Homo sapiens: one gene and its partner. The protein of the gene in region 2 binds, or shares a complex with, the protein of the main gene of each other region. Each region holds a gene or a part of one and is shown on either strand. Other genes may lie near its edges. A codon is read from its position in the direction of its gene.

What was found.
Region 1: the proteins of KIF15 (region 2) and KIFBP are in contact, whole or in part, in a cryo-EM structure (PDB 6ZPH), measured with the Homo sapiens proteins. Residues at the interface, in NP_064627.1 of Homo sapiens: Leu187, Glu189, Ile191, Lys192, Lys193, Arg231 (codon at 2,293), Glu232 (codon at 2,290), Arg235 (codon at 2,281), Arg271 (codon at 2,173), Met280 (codon at 2,146), Arg281 (codon at 2,143), Leu282 (codon at 2,140), Lys283 (codon at 2,137), Glu284, Ala285, Gly286, Asn287, Asn289, Arg290, Leu292, Ser293, Gly296, Gln297, Ile299, Ala301, Val303, Asp304, Val305, Gly306, His312; in NP_056449.1 of Homo sapiens: Lys26, Tyr33, Lys36, Ile106, Glu109, Ile147, Ser150, Glu151, Glu153, Thr208, His209, Tyr212, Tyr213, Gln216, Gln219, His220, Phe224, Gln238, Glu248, Trp249, Ile251, Asn252, Thr255, Gln258, Phe259, Asn262, Tyr415, Val416, Thr417, Glu421.

Annotation. Positions count from the first base shown.
Region 1 is NC_000010.11:68,991,803-68,995,402, reverse strand, and holds part of KIFBP (KIF-binding protein), read right to left. Parts: exon of another isoform or gene 3,535-3,600; intron 1-3,534. UniProt on the Homo sapiens protein: Activator of KIF1B plus-end-directed microtubule motor activity. Required for organization of axonal microtubules, and axonal outgrowth and maintenance during peripheral and central nervous system development.
Region 2 is NC_000003.12:44,792,607-44,796,560, reverse strand, and holds part of KIF15 (kinesin-like protein KIF15), read right to left. Parts: intron 2,345-3,954; coding exon 2,135-2,344; intron 1-2,134. UniProt on the Homo sapiens protein: Plus-end directed kinesin-like motor enzyme involved in mitotic spindle assembly.

The sequences.
Region 1 (3,600 bases), on a different chromosome or scaffold from region 2:
AGCTCAGTAGATACAGAATGAAATAACGATGTTGAGTGGAAAAAAGGTATACCAAAACAAGAGTATATACAATATGATTTCATTTATATAAAATTCTACATAGGCTGGGTACAGTGGCACATACCTGTAATCCCAGCACTTTGGGAGGCCAACGCAGGCGAATCACTTGAGGCCTGGGCAACATGGTGAAACCCTGCCTCTACAAAAAATACAAAAATTAGCTGGGCGTGGTGGTGTGACCCTGTAGTCTCAGCTACTTAGGAGGCTGAGGTGGGAGGATGGCTTGAGCCCAGAAAGCAGAGGTTGCAGTGAGCCGAAATCCCACCACTGCACTCCAGCCTGGGTGACAGAGCCAGACCCCGTCTTCAAAAATAAAATAAAATTTCTACATAGTCCCAGCTATTCAGGAGGCTGAGGTGAAAGGTTCACATGATCCCAGGAGTTTGAGGCCAGCCTAGGCAACATAGTAAGACCCTGTCTCTAAAATAAAATAAAATTCTACAAAATGCAGGGTTGGGGGCAAGCAGAAGGGAGGAAAAGAATATAGGAGAGAGGGAGGGACTACAAAGGAGCACAAGAAAACTTTTGGTGGTGACAGATATGTTCATATCTTGATTGCAGTGATTGTTTCACAGGTATAAATATATATGTCAAAACTCATCAAACTGTACCCTTAAAAATATGTGCAGTTTATTATATGCCAATTGCAACTCAATGAATCTGTGAACAATAACAACAAAAAGTACTCCTATACATATATAACCTGGAGTGGGGACAGCAATCTACTAATTTCCTAGGAAATTTTACTAAAGTGAAGTAATCAAGATGGTAGTGCCAGTGTGTACTGGTGATAACAAGGATCAGAAGGAATACCAGATAAAAATTATTCCTAAGGCACTGGAACCCAGAGAAGACAGAAATCTCTTGATAATCTAATGTAATATCAATCTCTTTTGATAAATAATATAGAGCCAAGTTCTGTAGTTCCCCAAGGAGAATACACCAGATTAAGACAAAGCAGTTAGAATATCATGAATTCCCATTAACTGATACTTGCAAAACTCTTCCATATACACACACATACATACGTATTTGTATATATTCACATGTATATAAACTTTTTACTATATGTGTATATATAATGTAAGTATGTGTGTGTGTGTGTATACTTAGTCTTATACAAAAATAGGATCATTCTATAAATTTTTTTTTTTTCTGAGACAGGGTCTTACTCTGTCACCCAGGCTGGAGTGCAGTGACACCATCTTAGCTTACTGCAGCCTTGATCTCCCAGGCTTAAGCAGTCCTCCCACAGCCTCCTGAGTAGCTGGGACTACACATGCATGCCACCACACACAGCTAATTTTTGTTTTTGAAAAACTGCTATTTATTTGACCAGAAAAACATTTTGGACTTAAGAAATGGCAATAACTGGCACATATACTAATTCAAAATATTTTCACAAAGCACCAAATAGAATAGTTCCCAATCTTTTCACTGAGAAACCTTTGAAAGAATGCCTAAAACTTAATCAGTTTACTTAGGTTTTTAATCAAGAAATCTAAAGCAGCCAATCAGAGTTTCTAATTACCATGAGATGACCAGGTTAACAACCTTGAGGTTGCAGGAGCTTTTAAAAGCTTTGTTTAGGCTGGGCTCAGTGGCTCATGCCCATAATCCTTGCACTTTGGGAAGCCGAGATGTGAGGATCACTTGAGGCCAGGAGTTTGAGACCAGCCTGGTCAATATAGTGAGACCCCATCTCTATAAAGATAAAATTAAATTAAATTTAAAAAAAAAAAAGCTTTGTTTAACCTACGCATTCTAACTGAGATTTGTTGACCTCAGGCTACTAATCACAGGTCCATGTGCCAGATACCTTGCACACACAAAATTGAGTAATAAGTATCATGTATAAAAGATAAAGACTATATGGTCCCTGTATATTTAAAAGGAATAATACCTAATTCTCATGGGTGAACAATTAGTGAGGGGCAAAGAGACAGACAGAAATTACTAACCCACAAGGGAGAACCAAGCAAGGTCAGTAGAAAAGAGAAAAGTCCTGTGCTCTGGGAATGCAGCAGAAAGGGCATTGGGAGGTTGCAGGGACCAGGCAGCAATCCAGGTCATACCAGGAACATGAGTGGATGTCAGTAAGTGTGGGAAGGAGCCTTCAAGGCTGAAAAAAACTAAACAAGCCAAGACACAGAGCCACAGGAGTACTGCCTGTTCAGAAGACAGTGAAGCATGTGTTCTGGGTAACACGATGTGAACTAAGAAGAGACATAAAACTCAGGAAAACCTCACCCAACGAGAGCCCAGAAACAACACTGGTCTGTATTTCTTAACAGCAATTCAACAGAGAATCTGAGGTGGCCTGCAAAACTAACAAGAGAGTAAATTATCTTGAAAGGGCAGGGGCACCACATGCTCTCTGTGGAGGTTCAGTAGCCAAGGATCACCCTGCAGCCCCTCCCCAACCCTACTGTGACACCCCAGACCCTTGGAATCAAATCCACTAGCAATAACCTTCCTTAATGGAAAATCTCTCCCCTCCCCAAATGTAAAACAAAAGATAAAAGCAAAGAAAACAAAACAAAAAGAGACCATCAGAGCAAGCTTTAGCCCTCATAACTCATCTATGCCCCACTGACAACAGGGTCTACTCCATTACTTAAACTGATTTGTAACACTGCTCCTACTACATCCTCCTCTTCAAAAAAAGTAAATAAACACCACACAAAATATAAACTTACCCCAAACAAAAGTCAGCATCAACCTAAGGATCCTACCGTAATGTTACTACGCTAACCCAGGATATTTTAATCTTCTTCCAAACCATTTACAAAAAAATTCCTCATCTGAGACCTCTGGAAGCGTTACAAATACTGTTACATTAGATTGTTCTTCTTGAGGTAGTTTTAAGTCTTGAAACAAAAAATTTACCTATTTTTCTACACCACTGCTAAGGGGTTAATTATTATAAAATGCCTACAACCAAAATCCCCATCCCCTTGATTCTCAAGCTATTAGAAATTTTTCCCTCATATCAAACAAATGGGAAACACACATAAAAAGATGAAAAGTCATGCAAAAATTTTTAAAAGGCCAGACACAGTGGCTTATACTGGTAATCCCAACACTTTGGGAGGCTGGGGTGGGTAGAATTGCCTGAGCTCAGTAGTTCGAGACCAGCCCGAGCAACATGGTGAAACACCGTCTCTCTAAAAATACAAAAATTAGCTGGGCATGGTGGCAGGCACCTGTGGTCCCAGCTATTTGGGAGGCTGAGGTGGAAGGATCGCTTAAGCCAGGAGGGTGGAAGTTGCAATGAGCTGTGAAGGTGCCACTGCTATGTAGCCTGGGCAACAGAGGAAGATTCTGTCTCAAAAATAAAAATAAAAATAAAAAACAAGCAAAAAAAAAAACCCACATAAAAAAGAAAGTGTATCATCATACGAACAGTCTAAACTTTGCCTAAGACAAAAAAAAGTTTACTTGGTTTACCCAAGGTACAGGCATGTTATAAATAAAGTACTCAAGAAATTAACATCTTATAAAAATAGTGAAAAAATTTTAGGTGGGAGCATAAAACTA
Region 2 (3,954 bases):
GCATGGTTGAGAGTACTGTAGCAGCTCGGTTTGAATCTCAGCTCTACCTTTATTAGCTGTGTGACTTCGGTTTCTTTAACTGTAAAATAGAAAGAATAGCACCTACTTCCCAGAGTTGTTGGGAAGGTTAAATGAATTAATATATGTAAAGCATTTTAGAACAGACTTGGTATATGTCCTATTATAAGCATATGCTTTTTTTGACACAGAGTCTCACTCTGTCACCCAGGTTGGAGCACAGTGGCACAATCACAGCTCACTGCAATCTCGACCTCCTGGGTTCGAGGGATCCTCCCACCTCAGCCTCCCAGGTGCTAGGATTACAGGCATAAGCCACCATGCTCAACCCATATGCTATATTTATTAAGCCTCATATCTCAATAGAAATATGAGCTTTAGGCTGGGCGTGGTGGCTAACGCCTGTAATCCCAACACTTTGGGAGGCCAAGGAGGGTGGATCACCTGAGGTCAGGAGTTCAAGACCAGCCTGGCCAAAATGGTGAAACCCCATCTCTATTAAAAATACAAAATATTAGCTGGGTGTGGTGGTGGGCGCCTGTAATCTCAGCTACTTGGGAGGCTGAGGCAGAAGAACTGCTTGAACCAGAGAGGCAGAGGTTGCAGTAAGCCGAGATCATGCCACTGCACTCCAGCTGGGTGACAGAGTGAGACTGTCTCAAAACAAAAAAATATGAGCTTCAGATTGCCTGAAACTGCCTCAAATGTAGGTCAGGCGACTCAAATCCTCACTTTTAATGAAAAAAGTAGATCTCTTCCCTCATCCTTTCCAATTCCTCTCCCCTTGCCCATGTATATTCTAAACTATAGACTCTACAAATATTTTATTGACAATTCGTATTACTATATATATATATATATAAACACATATTGACAATACATATTACATAGAACCTCTGGTCCCACTGTTGATACCTTAGCCTAGGACTAGATACTTAACCCTTCATACCTGAAATATTAAACAGCGTAAGTGGTCATCTTTTTCTGTGGGCTCTCCCTTCTAAAATCTTAACAGCAGTGGGTCAGATGACTAAGTTTCTATAAAACAGGCTTTCTTCATGAATCACTTAGTTGCTAAGAAATGTTAAGTGTTTCCCAGTATTCGCAGAGTTGATACAAACTTGGCCTGGCACTCCTGGTCCTTGATAATCCGGGCCTGCTTGCCTCTCTAACCAACCCATCCATTGAGCCATGCTGAAATGCCAAATGCTACACTCATTCTGCATCCACAATAACCCTTGAGATGCCCCCCTGCCAGGCATGCATTTCCTGTTTCTCTCTCCCTACCGAAATCCTTCACAAGTCAAGAACTACTTCTTTTCCACATGTTCCACAAGCAGTCCATATTGCACCCTTCTTCCTCTGACCCCTGTTGTCTCTTGTACCCTTATCCCCTCTGGTATGAATTAAAACATTTTTGCTACTGACAGACTTGCCCTATCCCATCTATGTTCACTGTTCCACAAAAGAAATCTCTGTTCCTTTTCAATAGGAACAATTTCTTATTTCTTTGCCACCCTCAAAACACTTAGCTTGGTATGGTCATATATCAGTTAACAACACGGATACATTTTTTTTTCTGAGACAGAGTCTCTCTCTGTCACCCAGACTGGCGTGCAGTGGCGCGATCTCAGCTCACTGCAACCTCGGCCTCCCAGGTTCAAGTGATTCTCCTGCCTCAGTCTCCCAAGTAGCTGGGACTACAGGCGCGCATCACCACGCCCAGCTGACTTTTGTATTTTTTTAGTAGAGACGGGATTTCACCACGTTGGCCAGGATGGTCTCGATCTCCTGACCTCGTGATCTACCTGCCTCAGCTTCCCAAAGTGCTGGGATTACAGGTGTGAGCCACCGCGCCCGGCTAACAGGGGTACATTTTAAGAAATGTGCTGTTAGGAAATTTGATTGTTTTGTGGGCATCATAGAATATACTTATGCAAACCGAGATGGTATAGCCTACAACATACCTAAGCCATGTGGTATAGCTATTATACTCTTAAGGGACCCCCATCATAAATGCAGTTCCTCATTGACTGAGACACTGTCATGCATCACGACTGTATTGACTGCTAGTAAGAACTCACACACAAGTTGAAGACCATAATTTCATTCTTACCTTCAATCTCATCCCTTCTGCATGGGTATCTTTTTGCCTTTCAGATCCTGCTAAATCCACCAGGTTGAGTAGGGAGGTCCGTATATTCACAATCTCATTACTTTTCTCCATTGACTCTATTGTAATTGTAAAGACGGCATGAGACCTAGACGATTCTCTGTTCATTGATGTTGATGCCACACGTCTATTCCTCCATCCTCCAGACAACACCTATGCAAAAGGAAAACATATTAAAAGAAATGAGAGGACCAGTTACAGTGGCTTATGCCTGTAATCCTAGCAGTTTGGGAGGCCATGTCTGGAGGATCACTTGTGGATAGGAATTCAAGACCAGCCTGACCTACATAGTGTGAGACCTCACCTCTACAAAAAATAATAATTTGCTATGTACAGTGGCAGGAACCTGTAGTCCTAGCTACTCGGGAGGCTGAGGTGGGAAGATCTCTTGAGCCCAGGAATTCAAGGCTGCAGTGAGCCATGATTGTGCCACTGCACTCCAGCCTGAGCAGCAGGGCAAGATCCTATCTTAAAAAAAAAAAAAAAAGGAAAAGAGAAAAAAAAAGGAACAAGAATAGGTACACTTAAAATGTAAAATAAGCACTTGAGAATCACTCATTTTATTATGAAAAATACTAACATACAGCTAATTATCTACTTTCATAGGGAAAAAGAAATATATTTACATAAAGCATATTTTCTATTTAGAACAGGGGTGAGGAGTATCTATTGCCTTCCATTGTTATCTAGCTTTATAAGATAAATTATATTATCCCAAGTTCCAAATGGTACACAACAGCCACCAAAATCAGTAGGAAATTTGTAAAGGGTGGTGAGAAAGATTACTGGTCCATTAAGGAATAAGCTGAAGTTATTTTCCTTTCCTTTGTGTTCCCTTTCCACATTACAGAAACAGAACAAACAGGAAATCAGAGCGCATAGGATCTAGAACTGGTTTTGCCACGCTTTATTTGTGTTAACCTAATGTAAATCACAAAACCTCTCTGAACCCATTTCTTTACCTAGAAAATGAGAATGTTGGACAGGAAAAATCTGTAAATTATCTTTAAGCCCAAAGTTTTGTAAGCTTTTGGTCTACAAAGTATTTTTTCCCTTCTATTCCCTATGGCAAGCAGGATACATGAAAGTTCAGAATGCAGGCTCTGGAATCAGATGCATATGAGTTCAAACCATGGCTCCACTATTTACTAGGCGAGGTCTGGGGCCAGCTGAACCTTTTCAAGCCTCAGCCTTCATATTTGTAAAATGGGAATATGGGTACCTATCCCATAGAACAGAACATATAAGTTTTAGGTGCATATGAATCATCTACAGATGTTGTTAAAATTCAGATTCAGATTCAGTGTGAGGTGGGGCCTGAGATTTTGCATTTCTAACAAGCTCTCAGGTGATGCTGATGTTCTGAGGACCACATTTTGGGTAGGAGGGTAACAGTATATATAGGGTAAAATGGGGAAATTAGTGTCTTTATCTCAAAGGGCATATTGAAAATTAAGTAAAATAATGTATACAAAAGAAGTTAGCACAGTGCTTGGCACCTTCACTCAATAAATCATAGCTGTTGGCAGGGCACGGTGGCTCACGCCTGTAATTCCAGCACTTTGGGAGGCCCAGGTGGGTGGATCATGAGGTCAGGAGACCGAGACCAGTCTGGCTAACACGGTGAAACCCCGTCTCCGCTAAAAATATAAAAAATTAGCCGGGTGTGGTGGCATGCACCTGTAGTCCCAGCTACTCGGGAGGCTGAGGCAGGAGAATCGCTTGAACCCGGGAGGTAGAAGTTGCAGTGAGCCAAGATCGGG